Regions from separate parts of the Homo sapiens genome. Here region 1 is linked to region 2. The links come from fine-mapping of genetic effects on plasma protein levels. A gene starts in region 2. The other region holds a variant in brackets. All regions are shown on one strand. Distances are from middle to middle.

Evidence for each region. PIP is the posterior inclusion probability: the model's chance that the variant is causal. Protein levels are from the aptamer-based SomaScan assay of Sun 2018.
Region 1: its variant is fine-mapped to the plasma level of the ITIH5 protein (Sun 2018, PIP 0.95). The variant lies in the coding sequence of ITIH5. If it changes the protein, the assay may bind it differently, which can mimic a change of level.

What each region holds. Positions count from the first base shown.
Region 1 is chr10:7,576,261-7,584,260 of GRCh38, forward strand. It overlaps ITIH5 (inter-alpha-trypsin inhibitor heavy chain 5), which reads right to left. Exons shown (of 14, transcript NM_030569.7): 9 at 3,495-3,804; 10 at 193-752. Among named protein-coding and RNA genes, the nearest start is that of ITIH5, 87 kb to the right of the region's middle. The variant T/G (reference allele first, on the strand shown) is at 3,652.
Region 2 is chr10:7,663,531-7,671,530 of GRCh38, forward strand. It overlaps ITIH5 (inter-alpha-trypsin inhibitor heavy chain 5), which reads right to left and starts at 3,436. Exons shown (of 14, transcript NM_030569.7): 1 at 3,273-3,436. The coding sequence starts at 3,362.

The sequences.
Region 1 (8,000 bases), 87 kb before region 2:
AAGGGATCCCACCTCAGCCTCCCAAAGTGCTGGGATTACAGGTGTGAGCTACTATACCCGGTCTGGGTTATTGTTTATAAGTATTATAGCAAGATGGAATAACACAGCTTCCTGCTGGGGCTTCCTGTGGAGGAGGTGAGTGGTATCTCAGGCCCGCGTCCCCCACACCTGGCTGGCACAGGTGCCTCGTACCTGGCTGCGTGCCAGCTCCTCGCACGCTCTGCACCACCGGTTCGGGTCCCATGGCAGCCGACATGCCGTGGGCCTCCTCCAGGCCATCCATGCGTGGGACCGGCCCCCTCAGCTTCATGGAGGTGAAGGGAGTGAGGAAGCGGTAGCTCACAGCCAGGGCCTGGGCCCGCTGCCGCAGCCGCTCCTTCTCCGGTTCATCGTCACTTTGCAGCCAGGAGCTCAGCAGCTCCTTTGTGGTGAGGTAGCTCCAGAGACGCTCGATGTGGTTGGTGTCCCCCTCTCCATCGCCTCCAGGCCTGGGGCTTCCTGTGACATCTTTCCCTGCCTTCTGAGGCCGCACAGGCACATCTGTCTTCAGGATGATGAATTTCTTACTGTTGCTGGCGGTGACCTCCACGTGCAGGTGATCCAGCTTCCTGTCCACCAGCTTCCCCGCAATGATGATCTCCGAGCCGTTGAAGTAGTTGGGGAACAGGGTCTTGGTGGCCTGCACCACTGAGCTGGGGGGATAATCGATGCGGATGTCAGAGAGGAGCGGGGTCCTGATTTCATCGTAGAACCTGCAGTGGAAGCACAGGGAGGGAGGGAGATCAGGGCCCTGCTCTGACAGCAGGCAGGACAGTCCTAAAGGAAACTGCAGACTCTCAGGGGGATGCATCTGATTTTAGAAGCAATTGAGTCCAACATGGCACCCCACACAATATTTCTGCCAGGAGATCACTAGGCAGCAGGTTGAACACCATTGGTGAGAGGGAATGCATTCTCTCACGCGGCTTCTGAGCTGTTTTTCAACCACTCTCATGATGAGAAAAAACCTGCTTATAGTAGATTAAAATCTTCCTCCCTGAAATTTCCACCCACTGGTTTCAGTTTTGCCTCTGGAACAATATCGAATTAGTGTAATCCATTTCAACAGACATTTGGATGCTTAAAAAACAATGCTGTGCATTCCTTTAAGCCCAGTCAATCCCCAGTTTCATGAACTATTCTTCCTGTGATACAATTTCAAGATTCCCTCACCAGTCTTGGTAAATTTCCTTTGTGTACACTTACGTTTCTTAAAGGGACTCTTAAAAACCTTTTTCTTAGAACCAAATACAAATTCCAGATGTGCTTTAAGCAGCGCATTCTACTTCAGAAACCTGACTTTCGTGAGTTTGTGCGTATAACATTTGCTTGCATTTGCTTTCCTTGTAGTTAAGTTGCATGGTCGCTTCTTGCTAAGTAAGGAGACAATTAAAATTCCCTTTCAAAAGGCCTAGAAACCATAGGCTGTGGAGTTAGACTTCCATCTCTGTTGCTTCCTTGCTGTGTGTCTTGGGACATGTGACTTAACCTCTCTGAACTTGAGTTTCCTTATCTAGAAAATCAGGATGTAAACAGTACTTCTTTGGTCACCTACTAGCTGTCCCTGAAAGTCCATTTTCCCCTTCTTTCATGAGAATTGAGCTCCGGCCATCCAGCTACAAACTACATTTCCCAGCCTCCATCGAGGCCACAAATGGCTATGTGACTATGTCCTCCCAATGGAATATGGGTAGCAGTGAGATGTGCAACTTCTCAATATTTGCTTACAATCCATGCTGGCTTTCTTTTCTCTCTCCCTTTTTGCGGCTAGAAAACAAGAGTGATAGTGACTGAATTTCAATCCTGTAGCATTAAGGACAACACCTGAGGGAAGCAGAGCAATAAAACAGAAGGAGCTTGGGTCCCTGAATGACTTCTGGGAGCAGGATCTAGCCTGTTACCATTACAGGAGAGGGAAGGAAATGGCTATCTTATTTCAGCCTTTGCCTTTCATCATCTCTGTATTGCAGCTTAGCCTTTACCCTAATACACCTACCTCCTAGGATTTCTGTGAGGATCATCTGGGATGATGCACATCGAAGTTCCTGGTGTATCATAAGTTCTCATAAATGCCAGGTATCGATCATAGTTTCAGTGGGATGGCAGTGCAGCTGACTTGTTACAGCATAACTGCTTTTGCTTCTGAATGCCTTATTGAATTTCAATTCTGTTATCCAGTGTATCAGATTCTCCCCTTTGACTCTAGTTTTGAATAATTTTTAAAATGTGGAAAGCAAATCTGTGTTTTCATTTAAATCTTTCATTAAAATGCGTGGGAGGAAACGGTGGCGAATCCCAAACCGAGGACCTGTCTTTACTGCACACCTTAGGTGTCTCCATTTCCATTTATCATTAATAAATGTGCTTTGACTATGGCTATTAAACACCTATAAATCTACCCAAACCTCCCCTTTGCTTTTAAGTAGATACCACATATGCCACGATGCAGATTAAAGCACCTCACGCTGAACTGGGAGCTGGCACTTCACTCAATGAACAGCAAAGGAGCAGACTGATGCGTGGCAACATAATATCGGAGGGAAGCTATTTCTGTTTTAAAAGATCTGAGTTTTCTCCATCTCTCATTTAAAAGATCTCATTTATTCTCCACCTCAAAATAATCTGATTATTTAACAGTTTTATCTGATGGTTTTGCTTCCAAATAAAAGTATCTTTTAACTAGTACTCAAAATGAACATAACAGTACTCTGCTACTTGCTCACAGGGTAGAATAAAAGTAAACTTACTAGAAAGTGCTTTGAAATATCAGGATGTCAATGAACTATGAGAGCTCATTAAATACTTAATATGGGATGGCCACTGTGCCAGTGCTATACATAGTGTTTTTATATAGCGATTTTCTCATTAAATTCTGCAACCAACCATAATCCTCATTTTACAGATGAGAAAACGGAGGTACAGACTGTCTTAAAATCTTGCTTAGGGCCGGGTGTGGTGGCTCACGCCCATAATCCCAGTACTTTGGGAGGCCAAGGCGGGCAGATCACCTGAGGTCAGGAGTTCGAGACCAGCCTGACCAACATGGAGAAACCTTGTCTCTACTAAAAATACAAAATTAGCCAGGCGTGGTGGTGTGTGACTGTAGTCCCAGCTACTCAGGAGGCTGAGGCAAGAGAATTGCTTGAACCCAGGAAGCAGAGGTTGCAGTGAGCTGAGATCACGCCATTGCATTGCAGCCTGGGCAACAAGAGCGAAACTCCATCACAAGAAAAAAAAAAAAAATCTTGCCTAAAGTCATAAAGGAGGATCAGAATTCGAACTCTGATCTGCCTAGTTTCAAAACACATGGTGACACCTCCCATTGCAATGAGCTATGATCGTTGTCAGCAGATGCAAGGCTGGGGTGCAGCAACACACTCCTCTCTGAATTCCCACCGCAGCCACCCCTCAGCCCCTCAAACAGCCTCTCATGCCTACGAAGACAGACCACAGACCCGATGAGCTGCGAGCCTGCGTCCTCCTCCTCGTGCACGCGCCGTGTGAGGCCACAGTTCTCCAGCGACAGTTTCTCCAGCAGCCTGAAGTCCACGTCGTTGCCGATGCCAATGGTGAAGATGCAGACTTGGCCTCGGGCGGCCTCTCGGGTGTTGT[T/G]GAGGATCTTGAGGGTGTGCGTCTCCCCGACCGTGGGCTTCCCATCCGTCAGGAAGACGATGAGGGACACGCTCCGGTCTCCAATGCCACTGTGGGCCACGTACTTGTTGAGGAGCCTGATGGCCCTCTGCAGGGCCCCGTTGATGTCTGTGCCTGCAGGACACCAACACGGAACAGCTCAAGCCTCTGCACTCACCTCCGCACTCTGATTGCACTTTCTTTTTTTTGAGACGGAGTCTTGCTCTGTCACCCAGGCTGGAGTGCAATGGCGCAATCTGCACTCACTGCAACCTCCGCCTCCCAGGTTCAAGCGATTCTCCCGCCTCAGCCTCCCGAGTAGCTGGGATTACAGGTGCACACCACCACATCTGGCTAATTTTTGTATTTTTAGTAGAGATGGGATTGACCATGTTGGCCAGGCTGGTCTCAAACTCCTGACCTCAAGTAATCCGCCCACCTTGGCCTCCCAAAGTGCTGGAATCACAGGCATGAGCCACCATGCCCAGCCTGAATGCACTTTCATAGCTGCAGTTCACGCTCAACCACCCAAATGCTCACAGGAGTGAGGTGTTAAGGGGCCATCCAGAAACTTGCTAAAAGCAAGTGCATTTACTAAATGCATATAAGTGAATGGGGATTATCCCACTGTAACAAACCTTCTCCAGAAGGCATGTGGCGACGCCTTAGCTTACCTGAGCTTCAATGGCTTCTGTGCCCTCTTCTGAGAATGGCTTTGAAAAGAGCAGGAAGGTGTTGAGCATAGAAGACAGCAGGAATGTGGAGGGAGAAAGAGCCGCAGAGGGGAGGAGGGGCATGGAACGAAGAGGAGGAGGGTAGCTGCTGACATCTCAGATGCCTTCCAGTGTTGTCTAGGGCTAGGTGGAGCTGATGAAAGAATGAATTTGTTGCCTTCATCGTCTCTCCTTTCTTTGCTTCCTGTCCCTTCAGATCACCTCTGCTTGCCAGAACCCCACAGAGAAAGGAGCCATGAAATATTTCTCCTCCTGGCCACCCTTTTTCCTTCAGAGGCCCTTGTCAGCAACAGCTCTGATTAAAGTTGGAGGCCAGCCAGGCACGGTGGCTCATGCCTGTAATCCCAGCACTCTGGGAGGCCAAGGTGGGTGGATCACCTGAGGTCAGGAGTTCGAGACCAGCCTCGCTAACATGGCAAAACCCTGTCTCTACCAAAAATACAAAAATTAGCCGGGCATGGTGGTACATGCCTGTAATCCCAGCTACTCGGATGGCTAAGGTCAGAAAATCACTTGAACCCAGAAGACGGAAGTTGCAGTGAGCCAAGATCGTGCCATTGCACTCCAGCCTGGGAAACAGAGTGAGACGCGGTCTCAACAGAAAAAATAAAAATAAAATAAATAAATGAATAAATAAAATAAAGTTGGGGGCGAAAGGGAAGAAAAATTTTATCAGGAATATGTGGCTTAGAAAAACCATACGAAACAGAAAACAAATCTCAACTCTGAGAAATGATGGAACAATAAACACCAATGACATTAGCAGGCATCTGTGGACAGCAGGAGGTTTTTCTCTCCTTTTTTTCTTTTGATGATTTTCTTTATTCCTCAAATGTTTTAGAATAGATACTTCCATGGAAAAAATGGTGTGAGAACATGAGCAGGCTTCTGGAGTTCTAAATGTTCTGTTTCTTGATCTGGGTCCAGGTTCTGTTCAGTTTATGAAAACATATCAAGTTGTACACTTACTACATGTACATTTTTCTGCATGTATGTTACACTACAGGTTACTGCTTCCTTTAAAAAGAATGTTCCCATGTTTTCTTTTCTTTTCCTTCTTTTTTTTTTTTTTTTTTTTTTTAGAGACAGGGTCTCACTATGTTGCCCAGGCTGGTCTCGAACTCCTGGGCTCAAGCAGTTCTCCCACCTCAACCTCCCAAAGTGCTGGGACTACAGGCATGAGCCACCATGCCCGGCCACCCATGTATTTTTTTTTTTTTTTTTTTTTTTGAGATATAGTCATGCTCTTTCGCCCAAGGTGGAATGCAGTGGCGTGATCTTGGCTCACTGCAACCTCTGCCTCCTGTGTTCAAGCAATTCTCCTGCCTCAGCCTCCCGAGTAGCTGGGATTACAGGCACACGCCACCATGCCTGGCTAATTTTTGTACTTTTTTAGTAGAGACGGGTTTCACCATGTTGGCCAGGCTGGTCTTGATTTCCTGACCTTGTGATCTGCCCGCCTCGGCCTCCAAAGTGCTGGGATTACTGGCAGGGGCCACAGCACCTGGCCCCATGTATTCTTAAATTTACTACTTTATGATTAAAATAAATCAGACAATTTAAGTTTGGGAGCAAAATAAATAAATAAAGTTGGGGCCTGTGTCTTTGATAGGAGCTGAACAAGTATTTGTTTGGTGGATGGGGAGACAGGTGGTTGGGTGGTTGAGGTTGAAACCCCAGCTACAGTGAGGTTTCTGGGTTAGCTAAGAATTCCACTGGACTAAGCTACCAACATCCCACCATTACCAAGTAAAGCAGAGACCTTACTGTAGTGTGAACACCTATTTCCTTTGTTTTTTTTTTAAAATGGCTTAAGATAAAATCTACATACCAAAAGATCACCCATTCTAAGTGTCCAATTCATGATTTGTAGTAAATTTAGAGTTTGATGACCATCACCACCATCCATCATCCTGACTGGAGTGACTTTTCTCTACCTGCAAATTTTACCACATTTGTGGTACATATATACCATGGGGCACTATTCAGCCACAAAAAAGAATGAGATCTTGTCATCTGCAACAAGATGGATGGAACTGGAGCTCATTATATTCAGTGAATTAAGCCAGGCACAGAAAGACCATCTTCCCATGTTCTCGCTTATTTGTGGCAGCTAAAAATTAAAACGATTGAACTTATGGAGATAAAGAGTAGAAGGATGGTTTCCAGAGGCTGGGCAGGGTAGTGGGGGGTGGGGCAGAAGTAGGGATAGTTAATGGGTACAAAAAGAAGTTAGAAAGAATGAAGACGATCTAGTACTTGGTAGTGCAACAGGGTGATTATATTCAATAATAATTTCATGATACACTTAAAAATAACTGAGTATAATTGGATTGTTTGTAACAAAGGACAAATGCTTGAGGTGATGGATATCTCATTTATCTGATGTAATTATCACACAATGTATGCCTGTATCAAAATACCTCATATACCCCATAAACACATATACCTACTCTGGACCCACAAAAATTAAAAATTAAAATTAAAATGTACCGCATCTGAGAGAACCAGATCATCTCCCCCACGGCTTAACATCCTCCAGATTTTCTAGCTAAAAAAGTAGATAAGGCTATGTCCATGACCAAATGTTCATAATTCTTGCTAAGATGCAGAGCCCAAATGGAAAGAAAGTTATTTTACATTTTATTGGAATCACTAATTTGCCTTTCTTTTGTTTGTTTGTTTTTGAAACAGAATTTCACTCTGTCACCGGGGCTGGAGTGCAGTGGTGCGATCTCGGCTCACTACAACCTCCGCCTCCCAGGTTCATGCAATTCTCCTGCCTCAGCCTCCCCAGTAGCTGGGACTACAGGCGCAAGCTACCACGCCCAGCTGATTTTTTTGTATTTTAGTAGAGATGGGGTTTCACCATGTTGCCCAGGCTGGTCTCGAGCTCCCGAGCTCAGGCAATCCACCCGCCTTGGCCTCCCAAAGTGCCAGGGTTATAGGTATGAGCCACTGCGCCTGGCCTAATTTGCCTTTCTTAAGGTCCAGTCTAATTTCTTAGTGCCCCTGGATGTGTGAACAAGGATGAACTGGCATTTTTTTCTCTTGTCTCTATTCAGCAATGGTGCCAAATCTCTCACTCCACTTTAAAGCCAAGGAGAGCACAGGCAGAGGGACGGATTAGCTTTCCCGATGGCACACAGCCACCAGAGGCCCTGCAGGGATTGGTATCAAGCCCACAGCAACTGGGGCATCTCCTTCCCACTGAAAACAGACAGGAGCTGTCATCAAAGGACTCACAAGCACCAGCGAGAGGGGTTACCTGAGTGGGTGAAAATAATGGCCACATCTGATGCTTAAAGAGGACTTCCTATGTGCCAGGACCATTCTAACCACTTGAAATGCTTTAACTCACTCCATCCTGGTAACGATTCCATTGTTATCTTCATTCTACAGATGAGGAAACTGAGGCACAGAGAAGATGGAGCTGGATTCAAACCCAGGCAGTCTGGCTTCCAAATCCATGCTCACAATCCTGATGCTACACGTCTTAGAGAGAAGCAGGCTGATCTGCTGTTCACCTGCAGAGGCTAGGGCAATGCAGTTCAAGAAAAATAAAGGAAACCCACAGGGTTTCTAAGGCTTGGAGTC
Region 2 (8,000 bases):
ATGTGTAATTTGTTGTGCTTTCTTTATCTTTCTAAATAAATAGTCATTTTAGCACCTAATTTTGTAGTTATAATTTGATACTTTTTTCCTTCAAGAGGGTCCTGCAAATTGTATAAACTTTACTCTCCTCCCAAAGCCTAGATCCACCCCTGCCTATGTAGTAGGAATTATTAACAACTCTATATTGCAGATGATGAAACTGAGACCCAGAGAGGTTAAGTGACTTGCCCAGGTACACACAGGCAGTAAGTGATGGGGTCCAGATATGAGCCCAGGCAGTCCGGCACCACATGGAGTACTCAACCAGAATACATTATTGCCTCTTATTATTTTCACATAAAGCTCCTAGCAAACTCCCTGAGACATTGGGACATTACAGATACTCAATAACTGGTGGCTTTTACTATTTTGTCAATCTAAAACTGCTTTGATAATAATGGGAATATAACTCTATCTTTAAAGACACCATATAAATTTAAGCTAACAAAACAGATAAGTCTGTAGCAGACAGTTTTTATACAAGGGATTTTCTTTTAAATACTAATTTCCCAAAATATCCTTTAAAAATACTACTATTCAAAGTGTGCGGCTAGGCACAGTGGCTTATGCCTGTAATCCCAGCACTTTGGGAGGCCAGGGCAGGTGGATCACTTGAGCTCAGGAGTTTGAGACCAGCCTGGCCAACGTGATGTATTTTTGTCTCTATTAAAAATACAAAAATTAGCCAGGCATGGTGGAGTGCACCTGTAATCCCATCTGCTTGGGAGGCTGAGGCATGAGAATCACTTGAACCCAGGAGCCAGAGGTTGCAGAGAGCAGAGAGCCTGCCACTGCACTCCAGCCTGGGCGACACAGCGAGATTCCGTCTCAAAAAAAAAAAAAAAACTAAAATGTGTTCCATGGACCACCTGCATCAGAATCATCTGCGCCCCATCCCAAACCCAATGGATCTAAACCAATGGAAGTGGAACTCAGGAAGCTGAATGTTTAATGAACACCCCAAGTGACTTTTTCCACCCCAAGGGTGAAAACCACTGCTTTTAGGAGTCATTCCACTATGGGTTACTGAGTACCCACTGTCTACAGATGGGGTGAAGGGTGAGAGGTGAAGGAACTTGAATCTAAGGTGTTACTGGTATATTTCCAATTACAGGTGAATGACAAATAACTGCAATGCAAGTTAATAGTCATATTCAGCTATATTAAAATTTGCATAAGATTTGCATAGACTTACATTTTTCAAATTAAGTTTACATACAATTTTAAAGACCATAATGATTGAGAATAGAGTGCTCATTACATTCCCAGGTTCTGTTCTAAGATTTAAGTATATTAATTGTTTCACTTTTCAAAATCCTAAGTAATTGCATCATCCCCATACAGAGATAGAGGCTCACAAACGTTAAGTAACTCCTCAGTAAGTGCAGAGCCAAGATTTGAACCCAGAATTCTGGTGCTAAAGCCTATGCTCTCAAACCCTATATCACAAAAACTAAATATAAAAAAGAACGGATTAGGGATAAAAGGTAAAATTGCAAGTTCATAGAACTTTATACCTTGGATTTTTTTTCCTGATTTAGTCATTTTCAAGATAAATAAATATTGTGCTGGGTTGAAGACAGCATGAAATCACTAAAAGAGGTCAAGCCATGTTTTTTTATGACAGCAAGTCCATAGACTGTGAAGCCTACTTGAACTTGGTATATGCTAGAGTTTAAACAGCCTTCCTAGTTCAGACACAGAATCTTTGTTTCAGTCCATCCCACACTGTCCTGTCTCCACACCCCCAAAAAAGTTTCAAGATCTTTACCCTAAATTCCTTCACTCAGCATGTCAGCAGCATGAGTCTAAGACCATGGCCAGCATTAAGTGCTGACAGTGTTTTAAGCACTTGGGTGTCATAATGCATTCAGTCCTCACAACCCTATCATTTCTCCACATTTCACAGAAGAGGAATATAAGGCCGAAAGGCACTTGATCAGGGTCCCAGAGCTGATAAGTGACAGAATCAAGAATCAAGTGGTCCCAGACATCCTGGTACCAAGCCCATGCCTTCAGCCATCTACTAAAACATCTCCCAGTTATTGAGCGTCCACTGTATACCAGGTGCTTAACACAAATTAGCTGAGTCCTTGCAAGTTTGCTCAAAAAGAGCCGCATTCCCTGCCCTGACCAACGAGGACATGAAGGCTCTGAGAGATTAAAGGGCTTGCCCGGAACACACAACTAAAGCCCAGCCTGTCTCTGCATCCAAAGCCTGCACTTTTCCAACATCACTACGATGCCTCCTGGGATTTTATTAGCTACTCCCCCCCTAGAAGGAAGTATCATTACTACCACTTTACTGTTAAGCACATTCACAGGACAGAGAACATGAAGATAACTGTCTTCATATTTAGGCAGTTGGGCTTCAAAACTGCTCTTCAAAACAGGGGCTGGAAAAGGGAGAAAAGGTCCGCCTACTTGTATCTTCCTCCCACCGTGCACAAACACGCTGGAAGCTAAACGGCTTAAATATTTAAATGGCATGTGTGTGAAAGCACTTCTACTTTGTGACAGGGCCATGTTGCACATTAGCTCTCAATGCTATTTGTGTGAACCCGCTTCATACTTTTTAAAGACAAAAATGCTCTATTCATCATTTTATTGACATTTCATATTTGCAGGTTTTATTCGCCTGCGAGGTTAAGACATTTGAAACACAAATCCTGACAAACGCACAGACCAGCAACTCGAGGAACTCAGACGCTTTGGCTCTCGGTGCCACCTTTAAATGCTAAACCACCGGTAGGTAGTCGCTAAATGGGAAAGTCGTGTTCTCCCGGTTTTCAGGTGGGAAAAGCTGAGGCTCCCAGGAGTCTAGAACTCCTCTCATATTGCCTTTCTCCCTGGATCAACTGGGAATGATGATAACAGCAGACTGCCCCCCACGCGTGATAAGGAAAAAACCTTGTAATTATAATAACTTTTGGAGCTACCTCAGAAATTAACAACGACGAACAGAAATCTGCGCAATCAACAGGAGCCAAGAAGAAAAACTCGGCTCCGCAGGACAAGTCCCGGGCACAGTTCTGCAGGAAGCCTCAGGCCAGATCAGGCACCGCGGCTCACACAGAGGTGACGCACGAGTGACCCACAGAGAGGGACCCCTGGGCCTCTGGTGGGGGCCTGGGAGACGGTCGAAGGGGGCCCGGGCAGAAGCTCCGCGGCCGGGCCGGCGGAGGGAAGGGGGCGGCCGCGCCCGGGACCCGGCTCCCCTCGGCTCCACTTACCTGCTCCGAAGAGTGGCCCCAGCTCTGCGCCTCTTCCTGCGACCCCACACACAGGGACAGCCCCAGGCACAGCCCCAGCAGCAGGAGCATGGCGGGGCGAGGGCGCGGGACGCTCGGGGACCCGGCGGGACACGCTTTGCAGCGCCCAGGGCTCCAGCCACTGCGGGACGCTCTCGGGGCCGCCCACCCCGCGGTCCCAGCCCGGACCCCGCCCACCCCACGGACCCAGCCCGGACCCCGCCCACCCCGCGGTCCCAGCCCGGACCCCGCCCACCCCACGGACCCAGCCCGGACCCCGCCCACCCCACGGACCCAGCCCGGACCCCGCCCACCCTGCGGTCCCCTCCTGGACTCCGCCCACCCCACGGACCCAGCCCGGACCCCGCCCACCCCACGGACCCAGCCCGGACCCCGCCCACCCCGCGTCCCAGCCCGGACCCCGCCCACCCCACGGACCCAGCCCGGACCCCGCCCACCCTGCGTCCCCTCCTGGACTCCGCCTACCCCGGTCCCAGCCCGGACCCCTTCCACCCCGCGGTCCCCTTCTGGACTCCAACTCTCCCACCCCAGCCCAGACCCCACTTCCCCGCCCCAGACCTTCCCACACCCTGCCTCCCTGGACACCCCCCAAGCCCGGCCTCGCCTCCCTGTCCCCAGTCAGGACCCAGCTTCCCCAGGTCCCCAACCCCAAGCTCCGTTTCTCCACGCCCCCATTTCCCCCCACCTCCCCAGTCCCGGCCCCACCTCTCCTGTCCCTGTCCCCACCGAGGCCAACTTCCCAGACCCCACCTACAGCCACCCCCTTAAACCCGGCCCGCCTCCCTGTGGCCCCCACACCAGCCCCGCCTCCTCCCCAGTCCCCACCCCGCCCGGCGCCGCTTCCCGGCCTCAGTCCCACCAGAGCCGCGCCTCCAGCCCCCAGTGCTGGGCTAGCTCTGTTCGGGGAGAAGGCATTCCAAGCCTGCCTCGCCGCGCACAGCAGGGGCCACCTGTGTTGGCCCCACGGACCCCTCCCACACCCTCCCATCCTGCGGCTGTGACACTTAACCAAGGACCAGTCTCCTCTGTAGAGCCTCCTACTCCGTTTCTTGCCAACACCCACTGCCTCCCGGGCCCTACCCCACGCGCCCCCGCAACTCTTTCTTCCTCTCCCTCAAGGTGCAATATGCTTCTTTGCGGACTTGCTTAATTTCTGTCGCCAGAGGACGCGAGAAGGCCAGCCTGGTCCTCAGCACACAGCCCACCCCGCACCTGCCAGCCTGAAGCCGGCAGATCGTCCCCTCTGCATTGGCCAGGGACGCTTAATAGGCAGGACAAAGGATACTACCTGCAGTCTAGCGCAGGAGGGACTAGCAAGGCTGCCAGCCTTTATGTTCTAAGGAAACAGAGGAGACGAGGGAAGTATCTTGGTAGCGTGTAGTATTTCTGAGTTTCTGGTTATTAATCATGTAAGTGAGTGCCAGTATGTATCTTAGTTACAAACTATTGGTGATACTTCCATCCTGCCATTGGAAGAATTCTTACCCACCAGCCGTCCACACCTGGCCTTCTACAGGCTGAGTGCGTCTTTTTTATCTGGTGATACACATTGCAGTTGGGGCTACTTGTTTATTTCATGTTGCAAAGGATGTTTTTTATGTCTCTGTGATAATTTCATCTAAATAGGTGAGGTGAGTGACAGACCCTTTAAGGACCAAGAACAGGGAAGGGGCTAACTTCGGACCATGGAATAGAGAATACTATTCCATGCAGGTTACTATGGGGCCATTAAATAATCGTGCGACGTCTCCAGAAACATGGAGAATGTTGACAGTGTAATCTAAAGAGAAAATCACATCACCAAATCGTATCAACAGTATGATTGCAATTAGGTAGAAATACATATGGAGGGACATAACTAGAAAAAAAAAACATGAAAAATAAAAGCAGTGGGTAGGTTAGTTTGTGGTGAGATCCTCGAAAATATCTATTCTTGTTGAAATGCTCTTTGTTTAATGAATTAGGAGAGGTTAAAAACAAACACCTTGCTACTGTGAAATAAATGAAAGGAAAATTATTGTCATCAGCAGTTAATCCTTTAATAGCCTAACCACTAGTCAGCATGCAACCAATAAGAAACAACTGTAGCCGGTTATTTTTCCCTCCAGAGGAAAGTAACTATTTGTGAACCAGAAGTTGAATTGGACAAAGCCAGTTTATTTGCAATAGGGAACCATACAGCGGCCATTATTTCAACCCATGATTGCAACAGAACAGAGACTCCATCGTCTTTCCTTCCCTGCCATCCCTAACTTGAAATGCTGAAAGGGCCCATATTAAACTATTTTTGCCTTTATATCTGATCTCTTTTTTTTTCCCAAATTCATACTAACTGGGTTTTACAGCAGTCTAATGTTAAGAAAAGTGAGTTTTATTTTCATCTGGGAGGACCCTCTGATTCTACCCTAGACTGTGGTTCTAATGTGTTGTTTGTTTAATATAAAGCCAGTTTCTCCAACTGGATCTGTTCTTTGAGGACAAGCCTCTCCCCCAACTTCTAGAACTGTGCTAAATATATTGTTAGCACTTAAGGACCTTTTGATGAATGAGATTAGTAGATGGGAGGAATGAGTGTGGATGGTAGAGCCAGGCTGTGCCAGGGAGGTGGGGCTGGGCTATAGTGCAAACTTGACCGCTACCTAGCTGTATGACTTGACAGAGTTTCTGAACTTCCTATTATTTTCAAGCTGTAATAGTTCAGTATTCTATGTGACACCTGTGTATCTCTATGATGATCTTTAAAATCTAGGTAGGTGTGATAAAAATAAGACCTAGTGAAAGTTTTCCAAGACTGTCAACAAGCAAAGACAGTGATTTATATCAGCCTTATAAATAAGGGCCAAGGTGTCCCCACATACATTTGTCCTTTGATTCCATGTTTCTCATTTTACCTCCAGGAGGAGCTGAATTTCCAGTTACTGAACACATAAAATCTCAAAGCTAGAAAAGACCCTGCACGATGTCTAGCTCAATTCATTCACCAGGACCATGTGCCACGAGTGACAAATCACAGGGAAGGCCCCCGGGGTTCACGGACAGGATCTAGAGGCAGAGCTCAGCGACAAGGGACTCAGAGTCCAAGAATGAACAGGAGCTGTTTCTCCTGGGCCAGAGATGCTGCTCTGTCCACGCCACTTCTAGGAAATCATTCCCTCAAGTAACTGAATGATGGGCCAAAGTATTCCAGAATTGTCGAATCACACTTGTGAGAGTTATCCCTTTATCCTGGTCTCCTACTGGAGACTACCAATAGATGGGCCCAAAATCATGGTCAAAACAACCATGACTTAACGAGATTAACGAGTTGAAAGCAGGCTGCCTGTTTGTTTTCTTTTAAACCTCTCCCTTGATTTTACATCCTGACACCCCATAGCTCCTAAATCTAGCTATGGTTAGAGTTAAGCCACCACCCAGTTCTTTGGTCTCCACCTCCTCTCCCTCTCTCATCCTCCCTTCTGAGCCTCTGTAAGGCCATTGTTCTATTTGGGACAGCTCTTTCTCCCCATCCTTGGTCTACTCCTTTTTTATCTACTTATATGGCCTTGTGTGTTTCTCTTGGCCCCCTGACAACTGTGTAGAATCGCTACAGGTTTTTACAACCTTGGCTTTTTTTTTTTCTTGATTAGAGGGGACTACTAGGGAGGAAATGGGTTCCTTTTGACTTTGACTTGATGATTTCTCGGGAGCCCAGTTATAGCGTGTCAGGAGTCTAGTTATACCTACTTTTCATCTGCTTCACCAAACACTGAGTTTTGTCCACAGAGATTTGTGAAGGAAGAAATAGGGAATGCAGTTTTCTAATATATGATTGGTGATTGCTGAACTCAACTGTTCACAAAGTGTAACACTTACCATATTTTAATTATTGGCTTGCAGATTTGAGACCTAAATTAGACTCTGATTTCTTCATGGTCAAGGATTCTATCATTCTTGTTTTGACATCCTCAGGCTCTGACACATGGCCTGGAATAGAGTAGACGTGCTGTATGCTTGATGAATGAATGAAAAAATGTATATCTGCCATTATGTTACCCTGTGCTAGTTGTGTGTAATATGACAAGTTTTAGACAGACTCCGTGACCTTGAAGAAGTTACCATTTAGATATGAAGATGGAGCTAACAAAATGGACAAAATTTGAACTCAGTAGTGATTTCCTAAGAGGAGAAGGGACAAGATTGTGATTGTATTTGTGGTCTGGAAGGCTTCATGAAGGACGTGGAAATTAATATTTGCATGAATTTGATTTTGAAAGCCAAGTGGAGAAGAGAAAACATTAAGGAGACAGAGGAAGGAGGGGGAACAAGGGTGGAAAAGGCTTTGACAGTGGGGAAAGAACAATATAAAATTCTGAGGTTCAAGTCTGGGCAGTTGCCTGTGGAATTTGGTGGGGGGGGTGGGGGTGCTGAAAACTGGGAAAGTATAACACAGTGATCCCCAAACACAAATCTGCCAACCAGTGCACATTCCTGACCCCACTTTCTCCATCTGCTTCTGAAAGGAGAAAACTGAGTCATCATGGTGTATTTCTTTTTTTTCTTTTTTCTTTTTTTTTTAACTTTGAGACAAGATCTCTGTCTCCCAGGCTGGAACGGAGTTGCGTGATCTCAGCTCCCTTCAACCTCTGCTTCACGGGGTCAAGCAATTCTCCCTCCTCAGCCTCAACCATGCCTGGCTAATTTTTGTATTTT